Regions from separate parts of the Homo sapiens genome. Here region 1 is linked to region 2. A link means that fine-mapping ties the variant in region 2 to the expression of a gene that starts in the linked region. Tissue or cell type: whole blood. Region 2 holds a variant in brackets; the other region holds the start of a gene. All regions are shown on one strand. Distances are from middle to middle.

The links. PIP is the estimated chance that this variant, and not a neighbour inherited with it, causes the effect.
Region 1: MTFP1 starts here. The variant in region 2 is fine-mapped to the expression of MTFP1 in whole blood (INTERVAL, PIP above 0.99).

Annotation. Positions count from the first base shown.
Region 1 is chr22:30,422,141-30,430,240 of GRCh38, reverse strand. It overlaps MTFP1 (mitochondrial fission process 1), which reads right to left and starts at 4,473. Exons shown (of 4, transcript NM_016498.5): 1 at 4,295-4,473; 2 at 3,397-3,524; 3 at 2,838-3,070; 4 at 1,187-1,779. The coding sequence starts at 4,361. The coding sequence ends at 1,707. It overlaps SEC14L2 (SEC14 like lipid binding 2), which reads right to left. Exons shown (of 12, transcript NM_012429.5): 12 at 4,938-7,964. The coding sequence ends at 7,834. RefSeq lists enhancers at 3,094-3,654, 3,655-4,213, 7,809-8,100 and a silencer at 5,831-5,940.
Region 2 is chr22:30,296,331-30,304,421 of GRCh38, reverse strand. It overlaps TBC1D10A (TBC1 domain family member 10A), which reads left to right. Exons shown (of 9, transcript NM_031937.3): 3 at 4,871-4,978. Among named protein-coding and RNA genes, the nearest start is that of CASTOR1, 11 kb to the right of the region's middle. RefSeq lists a silencer at 1,590-1,639 and an enhancer at 1,800-1,889. The variant TC/C (reference allele first, on the strand shown) is at 3,970.

The sequences.
Region 1 (8,100 bases), 130 kb before region 2:
GAGTGAGTGAGCAAGGAATTGGTGGTAGATGCCAGGAGATGTCACAGGGATGCAGGTGTGAATGTACCCCGCATGGGGCTGTGACTGCCGGGGGAGAAGATGAGCTGGGAAAATGCTGGGCTGGAGAAGGATGTGAGTGCCAGCTCAGACAGGGAATGGGGGGTGGGGTCGGGGGCTAGAGAACAAGGCGGGGCTTAAAGCCTTTAAGGGAGCTGGGAGGGAGTGACAGGTGACTGGGCAGAGGCCATAGGGGCTTGGGAAGGGGACCTTGCCAGTGTGGGACAATAAGAGTAGCAGAGAAAGGCTCAGCCCACATCAGACTCATCCTGTAGCCATGGATACCCCCAGAGCAGCAGGGGCCACCACCCCGGAGCCCCCATCCTGTCTTGCTGGCAGCACCCCTACCCAGCCCTGCAGCCCCTTTAAGTCCCAGCCCAGGTGCAGGTGAGTCCCACCAGGACAGGGTCAGCCTACCTGACTGCACCTGGGCTGCAAGGGATGGGGCCAGGGTCTTGGTGGGAGCTGATTTGGTGCTTGGGGCAGGGCTGAGAGGGGCCCAGGTCTGCTTCAGCCCTGTGCTCCCACCTCTCTACCTCTCTGAGCTGTTGAGGGGGATGGCCCAGGATCAGAGGAATGGCCCCCTCTAGCACTCTCGAGCCCAGCAGCTCAGGGGAAGCCACAAGGAAAACAGGCCATTCCCTGATTCTGAGTGTAAGAAGCCCCCTGGTCACTTCCTTCTCCAGGCTGCCGAGTCCCCTCATGAGGAGGTCTCATGTGACCCTCATATGGGGCTGACACCACCATCTTGGCCACCTTCAGGCTCAGGTGGTATCTGCCCAACAGGCTCCCCTCCCAGAGGGGTTGGTGCTTTAGGAGGCTAGAAAAAGAGGGCAATGCCAGGCTGAGTGCAGTGGCTCATTCCTATAATCCCAGCAGTTTGGGATGCTGAGGTGGGAGGATTGCTTGAGCCCAGGCATTCAAGGCCAGCCTGGGCAACATAGGGAGACCCCCATCTCTATTAAAAGTAAGTAAGTAAAGGGTAATGCCTACCCCAAAGGAGGCTGGCAGCACCAACGTGGGATGCCAGGCACCTGCAGGGAAGCACTAATGGGCGGGGAGACTGCTACCCATCCCTCCTCCCCACCACCACATCCCTGCTCCTCCCAAACAGAAATGAAGACATAACAACCTCTTCAGGATTTATTGGGTCAGGGAAGGGCCTGGCCAGAGAATCTGTCCTGAGGTGTCCCTGGTACTGCACTCCTGAGTTTCTCCCTGAGTTGTCTGCCGCTCCTTGTTCAGCCATACCACCATGGGGTGACTCTGTCAAGCACCTGGGGGTCCTGGGTGCCCAGCTTGCCAAGTGATCTTGGGCCTATTCCTTGCCCTCCCTGAGCCTCAGTCTCTCATCCTCCATGGGAGGATGTAATTTTCCTGAAAAAGACAGGGCCGGGCCCACCCAGGGTCCACTTCCACTCAGCATCTTGGATTCCAGGGAAGCAGACAGCGTTCAGGTCCTGCCCTTCTGTGACTCCCTGCAGCCACTGCTTCTTGAAGCCTTTGTCTCTAAGCTTCTGTCCAGCTCAAACCCACCCAGGTGCCAGGGTCTTTGGACACCAGGGAGCCAGGTGTCCACATTCCCTGGCAGGAGTAGGAGGTTGACATGAAGCAGGAGGCCGATGCACAGGCCAGGTACCAGAGTATGATCAGGAGGAGCTGGGCTTCCCCACTGTTGGGTAGAGCTTGCGCAGGCTGGAGTCCAGGAGGAAATCCACCGACCTGTAGGGAGTGGAAGGGTGGTGAGCAGGTGACCAAGGGTGTTCATGAGGGAACAGAAGGCAGAAGGCCAGGGTTAGGGAAAGGGGCGCTTAGATGCAGGATACAAATGCCATCCAGCCAGAGACCCACCCTTATCCTGATCCTTCCACCTTGGGCTACCTGGGGAAGCTAGAATCAAACTCCCAGAATAGAAGCCATCCTCTTCTTTATTCAGGAGGAAACTGAGGTACTGGGTAAAAGACTTGCTCAGGGCCTCAGGGTCAGCTATCTTCTCCTGGAGAAAGACTGCTCCTCTCACTCTTACATTGGTCTGGTTGGGTTGAGCCCATATCTAGTTCTAAGACCAAGCACGTGACCCAAGCCTGGCCAATCAGCAAAGGGAAACTGGCTCATAGGGTGGGCATGCAGTCCAGAATGGACCAATGACACCCTTCCTTGGGATTTTTGTTGTTACTGTTTAAAAGCTTCTGCTGGGGGAGGCTAAGCTGGTGGGATAGAACTTGGGAGCTGCTAGGGCCATTTCTACTCCCACAAGGAGAAAGCAGGTGAAGCCAGCAAGAAATAGGGTGGGGTGGGGAGAAAGGCAGCAGGATGGGGAGACCCAGACCCCTAATGACATAATTTGGGTACCTAGATCTAGCCATGCCTGAATGCAACACAGCCCTGGACTTTTACTCCATTTTATTCAAATATTCAGTTTGAGTTAGGCTTCTGTCACCAATACCTCCCAAAATGCATCCCCTCTAGGGTGCACCTGCTCCTGCTTCTCTCTGGTTGTTTTGTAACACTAGACTTTCTTTCTGGGAATTTACTTGTCCTGTGTCCCATACCCTCAACGCACCCCTCTTCTTTTATTGCTAAAGTGCCTGCCATACCATATGACAAGGGTACAGGCTGTCCTTTCTAACCCAGGAGCCAAGTGCCAGCCTTGTCCCTGCTATTGCTCCAGCAAAGTGGGCATACCCCACACTTCACAGAGTCTAGCTCTACCTGGAGACTGGATGATCCACTCTCATCACTGGAGAGTGGATGATCCCTGAGGCCAAGAAGGTACCCACCTGTCAATGGGGTGGATAATGATGGGGATGGTCAACAGCCCAAGCGCGGTGGTGGTCCACTTGCGGACAGCCAGGGGCCAGCGGGTGGCAGTGCCCAGGACATAGAGAGAGGCAGCACACACGCGGTTGATGGTGAAGCCCGGAATGGCCACAGAGGCTAGAGCCTGCCATACAAAGGTGTCCACCACAGCCACAGTCACCCTGGCGCTGCGGCCTGCTTCAGGGCTGGGCACCTGGTGGGCGCAGAGACACTTAATCCAGCTGGGGCAGAGGCAGAAAATCCTGCGACAAGGGGCACGAGGCTAGACCGGGAGGGGCAAGTGGCCAGTGGACTTGTCCGCACCCAGGAGTGGGGTACAGTCTGCCACATCCAGTTCGGGGAGTGGGAGTGTGGGGGCAGGGGTACACTGTCCTACAAACAGGACTGTCTATGGACTGCACTAGGCAAGGTTGTAGGGACTGGAGTGTCCCACAGGGACTTTATCACATGCAAGGCTGTGGACTGAACCACACAAGAAGAGAGCTAGGGTTGGGGGTTGGAAAATAGGCTAACACTCACCTCTCCAGCCTTCTTGCCTTTGTCAATGGCATCCGCCAGCACGTAGGAGCTGGCCACGCCATAGCTCAGCCACACCACCGCCGCTGGCACAAGAGAGCGGAAAGCCTCGCCCACCTCATTGGCATAGCCTGGGGGAGGGAACATTTAATTCCTAGGCTCGCAACTGTTCCACGAGGGGGCGTTGGAGCAGGCTGGTTCTCATCCTAGCCAGCTAAGCAGTCCCTGGGTGACCTTAGGCAAGTGACTTGACCTCTCTGAGCCTCCCTTTCCGAGATGTAAACTGGTGCCATGATGCCCACCTCGGACTCGGGCCACTGAGGGCGGACTGAGCACTGAGTCACTGTTACCATTGCTTATTGGTTAGATTTCCTGGTCTTGGTCCCAGGAGTAACTGCACTAATGAGGTGACAGGCACCCAGAGGGGCAGAGTGATCGAGGGCAGCGCCACTGACCAGACGCTCGCCAAGTGCCAGGGCTTTCTGCGCTTTATCCCATTCCACCCTCGCAACCACCACCCAATGAGAGAGGCCCTCGTGTGTATCTCGTTTGTTTTTTGTTTTGTTTTTGTTTTTTTGCCGAGGAGGAAACTGAGGTTCAGACAGAGCCAGTGCGTGTCAGGACCGAAATGGGAGTGGAGATCCCGACTCCACAGCCAGCCAGAGCGCATGCCAGAGCGGGCAGCCCGCTCACCCCATGGGAGCTTCCGCCCTGGGCGACCCACCAGGGTAGTGTGACCTTGGGCAAGTCCCTAGCCCTGTCTGAGCCCAGTCTCCGGCCCAAAAGCAGAATGAGAACTAAGATCATCCCGCCTCCTCCAGGCCCCGGGCGGGCGTCCGGCGACCCCTGCTTCTCCAGCCCAGTGGTGGTGGGGTCGCCGCGCCCGTCGCCCCGCGCTCACCCAGGTATCGCACCCACGTGTCCCGGTAGAGATCGCGCTCTGCGCCCCGCGGCTGCGGCTCTGACATGACTCTCCCGCCACGGCCCCGGCCACTACAGCCGGTACTGGCTCCACTGCAGTCTCCGCCGCCGGCACTTGGGTCTGCCCGGCCGGGACCCGCCGAAAGTCCCGCGCCGAAGGACAGGTCAGGAAATCTCCGCCAGCAGGGAGCGTCTGCAAATTCCCCCCGCGCACCGAAGCCCCTCTCCCAGGCTCGGGTTTTACAGACTGGTTTTCGTCACGTTTTCTCTGAGCTGTTGGCGCTAATCGCTCCCAGGACTGAGTGTAGGTTTTGGAGCCAAAGAGACAGGGGATCAAGTTGGGGGATGCTACACTGCAAAGCTTGTGACCTCGGGCTTATCCAGCATCTCTTTATTCATTTGTAAAAACGAGGGAGGGACACAGGCTGGGCCCGTTGGCTCACGCCTGTGATCCCAGCACTTTGGGAGGCCGGAGGCGGGAAGATCTCTTGAGCCCAAGGGTTCGAGAACAGCCTGGACAACATAGCGAGACCTCGTCTCTACTAAAAAAAAAAAAAAAAAATTAATGTAATAAATAAAATGGGGAACACAATAGTGTCCACTCCCTAGGATGGTTCCGAGGATTAATTATAACAGTCACCATTTATTGAGTTTATTGCCAGTCTACATGTTCGCTAAAGGACTCTCCATGTCTTACACCTGAAACCCTCCCACCAGCCTGGGAGCCCGTTTTACAGGTGAGAAAATGGAGGCACAGAGAAGGTGGGTCATTTTCCCAGAACACACAGCTGCTAAGTGGTGAAGTTGTGATTTGAATCCAAACAGTGTGGATCCAGATCCCGTGCTCTTAATGCGAGCTCTAAATGAGGCTAGAGGAGTGAACGGTGAGCCCCTGGGAGGTAGGTGCCTGGACTCTGGAGTCCCTTCTCAGCAGTCGCCATGTATAACTAGGAAGCACTCGCATTTAACTGGATCAGTATGTCCCCAGACTGAGCTTCTTGGGGACAGGATGTTGGATGAATTAATTAACGAATGAATGAATCGGGCAAGGGAGACAGAGTTGGGGTTAGTGATTACAACAGGAGGAAGCCTTCCCCCGCTGGACCTCAGTTCACCCAGGTGAGCAATGTGTGCACTTCACTAAGTCTCTGTGACTCCTTGGCGGGTATAATTGAGCGGCGTTGGAGACAATCCTGGGTTCAAATCCTAGCTGTGCCGCCTACTGGCTGTTAGCCTCCCTGAGCCCCAGTTCCCACGTCTGCAAAAAAAATGAGAGTAGCCAACATTGACGAGCACTTACTTATACCAAGCTCTTAAGCGCTTTGCACGGCTTATTTCCTTTAATCTTTGCAACAACCCAAAGTGTAATAGTAAGCACAGGGTTTTTGCGTGATACCCGGTAGGCCTTATTAAGAATTAGCTCTTATTTTCATCAAAGGTAGAGAAAATGAGTAACTATTGAGGCCCCCGCTGGCTCCCTACGGAGGCCCCCGCTTTCAGCCCTAGGCGCCTCTGTCTTGTAGGGCTGTATAGGACAGTCCGGTCAGCAGTTACCTCAAGCTGAGCTGGGCTTGTAGGTTGGGGAGGGTGGTGGGTGGGAGAAAAGTTGATGGGGAACGCAGCGGTTCCCACCCCCTGAAACACCGGCAATGCTGGCGTGGAATTATTAGACAGTCCCTAAAACCACGTGATCGCTGCTCCTCCGCCTCCCTCTCATTCTGGGCCCAGTGCTAGCTCCGCAGGCGCTCGCCCGGACTCACACTTGGCTCGCACGGGCTACGCGGCACGTACTGAGCAGCTGGCGGGGCAGGGTCTCCGCCGTCACTGTGAAGGCCGTGGGGAGCATCCTTAGTGCCCTGATCAAAGATGGCGGAAGACAACCCACCAGCTGGACCAATCAGAAGGCAAGCTGGGCGTGGCCCCTTGGGAAAGCTCACGCTAGAGAGCCGAGGAGGATTTCTGCGCATGCGCCCTATCTATTGGCGTGAAACGGCTGCTGGGTCCGGGTCCCTGACGCCGTCTGAGTTTGGGCCTCTTGAGTGAGAGGCAGCGAGGAGCCTAGCGGTGGGCATTGAATTTCACTCCCTGCGCACTGAACGTTGCTTTATTCATTGGTTAATTTTCCTAACAGCGTTGTAAACCCAGGCCGGGATGTCCTGAGCGTTCTGGCAGAGGCCCGTGCAGCCTCGGCCCCTTCCGGTCCGCGCTAGCCTGGCCTTTGCCCTGAGCTCCCTCAGCTTCGCAAGATGAGCTTCCCAGACGGGGCCGGGGCCTGGCTCTGAGGGAAAGGCGTTCCCGCCAGGTCTGGGGCCGCCTTCCCATGTTCTCTAAAGCCCAGCACCTGTGGTTCGTTGGCGGGGCTCGTGGGATTGGGGTAAGGGCTGTGGTTTCGAGGCCGTCTGTGGCCGCCCCCAGCCCCTAGTCTGCGAGACGCCGGCCCCGCCTTTGGGCGGCCTCCTGCCTGGGGGGCCTCCAGGCCTGGCTACGCCGACCGGCACCTGAACTCCCTGCACGCGTTGCATGCCTCCCACAGAGATGGGACTGCTTAGTAAGACCTTGCTCAGGTCAGTCAGGAAGCGGGTTGGCGGGCACCGCGGGACACTCAGACTGGCAAACACCCTCTCCGAGTGCTGCTCTCTTGATCCCACTTAGCATTTTTGTCTCGGGGTTGCTCACATGGAGGACTGCTTGGTGAGAGGCCGGTAGCACTGAAAAGGGCACTGGACGATCTGCTTTTAGCATTCACTCCCACCCCCAACCTCCCTGGCCCTCCCTGCAGCTGCGATCCCTGTGGGTCATTTCCCTGGCGCTTTGTTTGCATGGAGAACAGCGGGTGGGTACCCGAAGTCCCAGGAAGCTCTGAGTCACTGACAATCATTAGTAATCAAAGAGGCAGGCCGTGTGGCCCAGGAGTTGCCAAAGTCTCAAAGTGAGGGAGAGGCCAGCCTGTCTACCGAGTGGGAAGATGTGTGCTGACTCAGGCCACCTCCTGAGACCTGGGAAAAGCCAAAAGCTACCCCAGCCTCAGTGCTAAAATGTTTGGAAGAGTTTCTGATCCCCACCGTAACTCTAGCAACCAGCTACCCTGCTACTCCTCATTGCGATCTAAACTTATGTGTTCATTTAGGAGCAAGTTTCTCCCCGGCAGCTGACTTCCCTGAAGTGTTAAGTCCCAATCTTTCACCCTTTTCTAATTTTTTTCCCTGCTGCCACCCTGTGGTACATGCCCCCCGCCACCCCCAGCTTCGCTGTCCCTGGACAGGTGAAGTTGGCACAGTTTACAGGACAGACAGATCCTATCACGATGGCCAGCCAGCTCCTGGGGACTCCTTAGGTATTTGATAGACACGGAGACCCACTGCAGTCGCTCTTCCTCTGCCTAACTGAAATGAAAGCTCCTGAGGTCTGTCCTCCAGCCCAGTTTCTTTGGGCTTCAGGGTTGTGCGAAAATGACTGCTACAAGGGGTAGAAATTGACAGGGAGACACTGAGGGGGCCAGGCCTGCTATAGGAGAAGGTGTTATTTCGGGGTGCCTGCCCCCAGCTGTTTCATCTTCTCTTCTGAGGCTTTGTCTGGAAGCAGGACCTCCACAGTGAAATTGACCTTCTTGGCATGAATGAAGCTGTAGGTGTTGTCAAACCGCAGGACATCTGAGGGAAGGCAGAAACCAGACAGACATTCAGGCAGTTCTGGCAAAGGGCTTGGGGACAGTGATTTTTGTTGATGTTTAGTGACTGAGCAAGGCAGTGTGGCAGGTCATGGGGATGAAGGTAGCCTAGGTAATGA
Region 2 (8,091 bases):
GATGCCTTAGGTGTCCTCCAACTGCCAGTGCAGGACAGAAGCTGGCTTGAAGGCAGGGGGAAGGTTGGGCCCTAACACAATGACTTCAGATTCATGCAGAACATTGTCCTGGAGCTAAACCTCAAAGCCACTCTTAGCCAACAGCCATAACACAGCTTTCTTCTAGCCTTCCCAGGGGAAGGACTTAAGTGCTGCTTACCAACTATCAAGGAGGACTTTACAATACTGCCAGTAACTAGCGTGTATGGAACATTTGCTTTGTGCTTGGCACTTGCCTGGGATAATTCCTTACAGCACCCTAGTGTGAGGTTAGTAATAGTAGTATCCCCACTTTACAGATGACCTGGTCAAGATTTGAACCCAAGCAGTGTACCTTTAGCACCTGCCCTCTTAGCCACCACAGTACGAGGCCTTCTTTACCCTCTAGATTAACTTGATGACTTCCCTCTTGACTCCTGGCCAAAGAAAGAAGAAAGTAACTTCACACTTTAATGATAGTCTTACGAAAATGAAATCACCCAGTAGTCCTTTTCAAGTGAGGCTGTCTTTAGACACTAGCTCTATTGCCCTGTGGGAACATTCTTGCCCACCACTCTTAAGTGTGTGTGTGTGTTGATATCCTTGGCTGCCCTCAGCATGGTGTTACCACCTGGCCTAGAGGAGGCCTGTTCCGAGCCTTACAGCTAGGGTCTCTCTGTACAAGTTCCTAATGCACAGAATGAACCCTATTGCCCACTCTCATCAGCTGACACTCTGGTCTGATCCAGGCTGGCACAGCTGGCTGCCGGGCCTCACAGAAAGCTCAGGACTGACAGTCAGGCATATAGACTTGGGCCCAGCCCCACTCCTTTCCTCTCTTCACACCTGTGGCTAACTGTGGAACTTCTGGGCAAGTCACTTCACCCTCTCAGCCTCAGCTTCTCTGGCCAAATGGGAGTGATAATCCTGTTGCTCCCCACGAAGTGGTGGTAAGTGCTTCGTAGACTGTATCGTAGATGGTGAAGCCCTGTGCTATGAGAGGAGAGGCTCACCCAGACCTGGGCTCTTGCTTGTTATTCTCTATAGCTATCTGTCTATCTATCTGTCTGTCTGTCTGTCTGTCTGTCTGTCTGTCTATCTATCTATCTATCTAACTATTTATTTGAGACAGGGTCTCACTCTGTCACCCAGGCTGTAGTGCAGCAGTATGATCTTGGCTCACTGCAGCCTCGAACTCCTGGAGTTAAGTGATTCTCCCACCTCAGCCTCCCAAGTAGCTGGGACCACAGGCACGTCACCACACGTGGCGAATTTTTGTATTTTTTGTAGAGATGGGGTTTCACCATGTTGCCCAGGCCGGTCTGGAACTCCTGAGCTCAAGCAATCCATGTGCGTTGGCCTCCCAAAGTGCTGGAATTACTGGCATGAGCCACTGCACCCAGCCTATCTCTTTTTTAAAAAACAATGTTAAGACAGTTATTCCTCACCTGCTTCCTGCCTGACTCTGGCTCTGTTTCCCTGCCTCATCATTCCTCTGGCTCTTACTGTGAGCTGTAGCTTGCTCTCCAGCAATCTGTTATGGTGACTGGTGGTTGGCAGGGACCTTCCGTGTTCTTGAAAATCGGGATTCCAGAGGGGAGCTTCGGGGAGCACCTCTCAGCAGAGTAGCAGCTGACACTTCCCCTTTTCTTTCCTGGCACTGTGGTTAGAGCCCAAGACCTGCCCCTGCCCAGCTGAGGCCTCCAGAGGAAGTGCTTCAATCCACCGTGCCCAGAGGCCCTAACTCACTGCTTCTCTCCAGCCCAGAACCATCCACTGGGTGCCCCTCGTGCCATCTCAGCTGTGGCCATACTGGGCCCTGCCCTCGGGGCTCTTCCTGCCTGTGGAGGCTTGAGTTCTCCCTCTGGTCAGGAAGTCGTGGCACAGGAAGTATAATACCTGTTTCAGGAAGTGGGCTCAGACCCAACACTTCTCCTGGACTCATACATAGTCCTGCTGGGAGGGTGCCTTCCTTTCCGGAGACTCCCAGCCATGTCTAGGACAGAATTCTGGTCCTGCAGGGAGGCAGGGCTGGGGCTGGAATGCTGTCTTCCCGCAGGGCCCTGCCCTCACAGAGTTCAGCAGGCAAGGGTGTGTCCTCACTCAGCTTTCATCAGAGACCTCCTTTCCCAAGGCCTGGCCTCAGAGAATGGTAATCCTCTGTGGTTTCTGGGAATACTTTCCCATGCTTTATCCTTACTGGTCCCTACCATCCTCCCTAAGGCAGGCAGGGTAGAGATGACCCCCTCCAGCACCTTTATGCTGAGGAGGCCAGAGTGGGAAAGGCTGGCTGTACTCCCAGCTCTTTGCTGCCCGCGAAGTGTTCCAGGGCTCTCCTGGAGAAGGCCAAATATGATGGGGGCTGTGATGATGTGGGGCTGCCTCTTGCTGAGCTTAGCTCTGTGGGAGAGCCTGAAGGGCCTGTGGCTTTGGGCTAAAGCACATCCCTTTGCCAAAGCCTGCCCAAGTTGGCTTCCTTAAGGAGACCCTTGTCCCATAGCCGCAGGAAACTCTTCCTTGCGTCTAGTGCAGTTCCCTTCAGCCCCCTTCCTCTGCCTCCTTTCTAGGCAGTCCCAGAAGCTCTCACTTGGCACCTGTGACCAGCCACTGCTACTCTTCCCCCACCACCCTCAGCCTGTTTGCCTGGCTCCTTCCTGGTTCTTGACTCTCTCTGACCCTTGGAAAGTTTTCTCTTGTTTGCACTGGTCCCCAGGAAGGCCAGGGCTTCTGTACTCCCTCCTCTGAGAGCTTCCAGCAGGACTGTTGAAGGGGGTTTCTAGGTGAGGGGAAGTTAGGTGTGAGCTGAGGTCCTGGGCTTCTGTGTCAAGCATCCTCCTGGGATGGAGGGGCAGAGAGGAAGCCATTGCTTACTGAACACAGACTGTGTCAGGCCCCACACTAAGCACATTTTCCCTCTCTAATGGACTCCTTTGACAACTCTGCACAGTAGTAGGTATTATTCAGATCTTACAGTTGAGAAGTGGTTGGCTTAAGGTCAGCGCTAGATTCAAACCCACATCCAGATGTTCTTCTCATGCCCCGAGCGCCCATCCCCTTTATCCCAGGTCAGGCTGCTTAGTGCAGGGGTTGAGGGAGTATCATTGGCCATCTCACCCCTCCCCCACCACAGCATTTCACAGGAGTGATGCCTCTGCCTTTGTCCTTGCCCACCTTGACGGGTCAGGGCAACTGCCTTCAGAGCCTCATTCTGGTCCCAAGCCCAGGAGGAGCCCACTGGTGATGTAGAAAGTACACGGGGCTGGGTCCCTCCAGCCTGTGCGGTGCAGCTAGGAGGTAGTAGGGTTTCTGATTGTATGACAAATTTACCCCCACTCTGCTTGTGTGATGAAATTTCCCCCACGAATTTTCCCCTACCCTCAATGCCCCATTTGTAAAAGACATGATCGTTTTGATAGTTTTTCAAATTGAGTTTTGCCAGTGAAAACTTTTCCTGATAAAAACAGCTAGCCGGAATTGAGCACTAGCTCTGGGTCATGAGCTGCCTCAAATACTTCCTCCCTCACTTCTCCCATTCTACGAGTGGCAGAGAAGACCTGGGCCATTTTAGCAAGGGCTGAGATCAGGACTCACACTCAGGCCAGCTGCCTATGCCCCAGGCTGGTGATGTTGGGAGCTCAGGGTCAACGAGAGGAGAGTGGGGATTCTTGACCAAAACAAAGAGGGAGCCATTTGAGCAGCTCCCATCTTCCTTCAGAGTTCTGCTGAGATTTCTCCCCTCTAGGCTGGCGGTATCCTGCCACATGGCTGCTGAAACCAACATACCTGCGTGAAAGTGCCCAGGCCACACCTCTGGGCACATTCTGGTTCATCTCATGAGCTACCTTCCCTGTGGCTGCAGCTGAGCCGCACACAGTGCAATGCCCTCCCTGGTGACAGACTATGGGGTTCACCCAACTTGTAATGGTTCCTTTTCCTTTTTTTTTTTTTTTT[TC/C]CTGAAACAGAGTCTCGGTCTGTCGCCCCGGCTGGAGTGCAGTGGCACGATCTTAGCTTACTGCAACCTCCACCTCCTGGGTTCAAGCGATTCTCGTGCCTCAGCCTCCCAAGTAGCTAGGATTACAGGCGCCCACCACCATGCCTGGCTAATTTTTTGTATTTTTAGTAGAGACGGGGTTTCACCATGTTGGCCAGGCTGGTCTCGAACTCCTGACCTTAAGTGATCTGCCCTTCTCGGCTCCCCAGAGTGCTGGGATTACAGGTGTGAGCCAGCGTGCCCGCCTATAGGGTTCCATTTTGATTCAGAAGATAGTTATGAGGGTCTGGAATTCCATGGCAAACCTCAGGAATGCCTGTGTTGTCACCAGGGATGTGGGACCCTGCCATCACCTGGTGTTAGCATATCTAATTGCAGGCACCTCCTCTCCCCGCACCATAGGATTGGCATGGTAGCAACAGTAGGAAAAGTCCTTTTTTTTTTTTTGAGACAGAGTTTTGCTCTTGTCACCCGGCTGGAGGGCAATGGCACGATCTTGGCTCACTGCAACTCTGCTTCCCGGGTTCAAATGATTCTCCTGCCTTAGCCTCCCGAGTCGCTAGGATTACAGGCGCCCGCCACCACACCCAGCTAATTTTTGTATTTTTAGTAGACACGGGGTTTCACCATGTTGGCCAGGCTGGTCTCAAACTCCTGAACTCAGGTGATCCACCCGCCTCGGCCTCCCAAAGTGCTGGGATTACAGGCGTGAGCCACCTTGCCCGGCGAAAGTCCTCTTTTCTCCCTGTTTCTGCTCTTGCTGCTGTGTGCACTGAGGGCCCACCACGCATTGGCAGAGGGGCTGGGCTAGGGGAGCTGCCTGGGTGGCTGCATGGGCTCAGCTGTCCTTTTGATTTTCAGATTCGTCTGCGGTGCCAAAAGGGCATCCCGCCTTCTCTGCGGGGCCGTGCTTGGCAGTACCTGTCAGGAGGCAAGGTGAAGTTACAGCAGAACCCTGGAAAGTTTGACGTAAGTTTCCCTTCCTTTGCCCTGCCCTCCCTTCCGCATCTCTTGGCGTCCTCCCCATGGCGGCAATCCTCCATGTGCTCACCTGAACCTCACAGGATGAGCAGTCCATGAAACCTCCAGTCATGTGCCCAACTGCCCAGGCCCCAGCAGGCCAGACCGGCCCAGTCCTGGGTACCTGTGTCTCCTGGAGGGTCTGTACAACTGAGGCTCCAGCCCTGAGCAGCCCTCAGTGGAATGGCCAGATTTGGTACCCCCTATTCCAGCTCTTTCTCTTGATGACCACTCAGGTTTTGCTTTCCTGGGCTCAGTAGGCTACCTCCCTGCTCTTGGTCATCAGGAGGGGACACTCAGACCATTTCCCTGACTGCCTTGGGCCCTGTGCCCTGGGCCTATGGGGGCTTGACTAGCAGGACCACAGGTCCTTCAGTGTCTCCCGGCCTCCCATCCTCTACTTTCTCCTGCCTTGTCCAAGCCTGGCCAGCACAGCCCACCTGTGTGTCTTGTGGGGTCATCAGCCCTAGGAGTAGCAGAGCCAAACCCAAGGGGGCTGAAGGGAACTGCCCAAGTAGCTCAAGGGGTCAGACGCCAGTCAGTGGCCAGAGAGGGTGCCCTCTGTTGTTATCCCTCCTCCTGTCCCGATATCCCTCCTGCTGCTCCCTGCCCCATGGCTGGCCAGAGTAAAATACCTCTCCATTCAGAGCTGGGCAGCTCCTCCAGCCTGCTCCCCCAGGGAACTATGGGGAAGCAGTTGGATTCCCTGGGGTTGCCCCGGCTTACCTGCCAGATCTGGCCGCAGGCATCGGGGTTTCTCGCAGGCCCTTGGGACTGGTGACAGGCAGACAGTGAGACAGAGCAGAGCTGCCTACCACCAGCTCTTTGTTGACATATCTCATGCTTCTTCATTGAACACTCCAGTCTTGCCAAACCTGTTCCTTGAGATGACTGGGCAGGAGCAGGGCAAGGTAGCCTAGAGTTTCTGCTGTTGACCTGGAGAGGGCGAGAGCTTTTTGCTGGCAACACGTGGACTTGCAGGGGCAGGGAAGCTGGTAGAGTGTCTGGCTGGGGTAGGTCTGAATCTGGCTGATTGGATTATTCCCCAGAGCACCAATACCAGGCCACACTGGAGCAGCCTCTTGACTCCAGAGTCTTCCTCCTAGTGGCTACATCTCTTCCATTTCGAGGGGCCGCATCCTGGGCAAAGTGGGAGGCTCAGGGGTGGGAACCTCAGTCCAAGTCCATAGTTAAAATCAGGCTGCCAGAGCCAGGCATGAGAGCCAAGAGCGTGGGCAGCCTGGTCAGCCTCTTGGCTGTGTGGTTCAGCAAGCATGAGTGTGTGTGCAGCAGAACACAGAGCTGTGTGCATGTGTGTGTAGAGCTGTGCTTCCAGAGAAGAATCAGCCACCCCCCAGGGGGTCTGGAAAGTTGCTTGTGTGAGGAGGTGGATTTGCAGAGAAGGCCTTCTTGATGCACCGAAGCTGAGTGACGGGTTCCTGCATGGTTCTGGGGGCTGGAAGAATGGTTTGTGAGCACACCTGGAAAGACTTTGCCTGTGGGTGACCCAGAGGAAGCATGAGGAGCTTCCCCTGGTTGCTGCGGGTCCTGTGCCGAGGCAGGGCACAGTGGGGGTCTGGTGATGGCAGCATGCACCTGTTTCTGTGCTCTCTCCCCACAGGGCCCTCCATTCAATACCCAGTCCAGGTGGCCCATCCCAACCTCAGCATTCAGGGCAGGCTCTGCAGGTGCTGGTGGCTCCTTCTCCTGCACGTGCTATTTCTTCCTCCTTCCTTGGGCAGGCAGGACCTCCTGTCCTTTTTTACCTGGCTTTCTTCTCTGGCTTCACCTTATGATGGCGCCAGTACCCCTCAGGCTGGTGGAGGCTACAGGCCCCATGACCATGGTACCTGCTTGTCTGCCGGTGCCCTTTCGATCTGCAGCTACCCTCTTTTCCTTTCTCACCAACCATGTGTGGCCAAGTGCCTTAGGCTGCTGAAGTGCCAGATGAACACATCCTAGGAACTGACTTCCGGGGTTTTCGGGTTCCTACCTCATGGGAACTGCTAGGAGAATTTGTGGGGCCCTCTTCCCCATTCTGACAAAAGCAAACCTGCACTGCGCTCAGACAGTACTTAGAGGTGCACAGTACACAGACCCCCATCACAAGGGTGTGTGGGGCCCCAGAGGCACGCATCCACCGCTCCGCTATGTGCCTGCTCTAGGGCTCTGTGTGGAGGCCCCAGCCCCTCCCTGTCCCCTCCAGCCCTGAACACTCTGTCAGCCGCTCCTCTCAGTCCTTACCCTCTAGTCAAGTTCCTGGCACCCTAGGTTCTTGAGCTTAATGCTAGGACACTCCCACTGAGGGCCAGAGAGGGAAAGGGGCTTGTATGAAGTCACCTGCTCGTCAGGGCAGGGCCTGTGTCTGCGCCCACTGGGTATGTTTGCTGAGGACCTGGCCTCCCTCCTGAGGGCCTTCCCTGATGCTGCCCCTGCCCTGCAGGCAACTTGTACTTAAACCAACACTCCCATGAAGGTGCCTGGGCCACACCTTTCAGCACATTCTGGTTCCTCTGGTGAATACTCTGCTTCCCTGCTCAGCCCTCTGGGCTTCCTCCTTATTTATTTTTTCTTTCTTTTTTAAAAATTGAGGTATGAATTTACATACAGTAAAATGCATAGATCTTGAATGTGCATGCAGTTCAGTGAGTTTTGATAAATAATACACATCCATGTAACCAACATGCAGATCAAGGTAGAGAACATTTCAAATGACCAAGAAAAGATTTTCCTTTTTGTAATGGCTTTGTTGTTTTGTAAAGGTGCACATACTGAAGCGTTCACAGAAGTTCAAAGAAAAGAGTAAAACTTTGTTGAAACCTCGGCACCCAGAGAAGTATCTGAGGTTAATGGTTTGACAGATGTCATGTCCTTCCAGAAAGAGCTCTGTGCAGATCTCACACACACCTGGCTTCCTGGATAGTTGACGCCACCTGCACAGGGAGGCATGTAGCTGAGGAGCTGGGATGGACGGCTTTGAGTCAGACCTGGCTTCCAGTCCCAGCTCCACCATTTTTCTAGCCAGAGTTAAATACCTTGACATGAGGCCTTGACATTCAGTT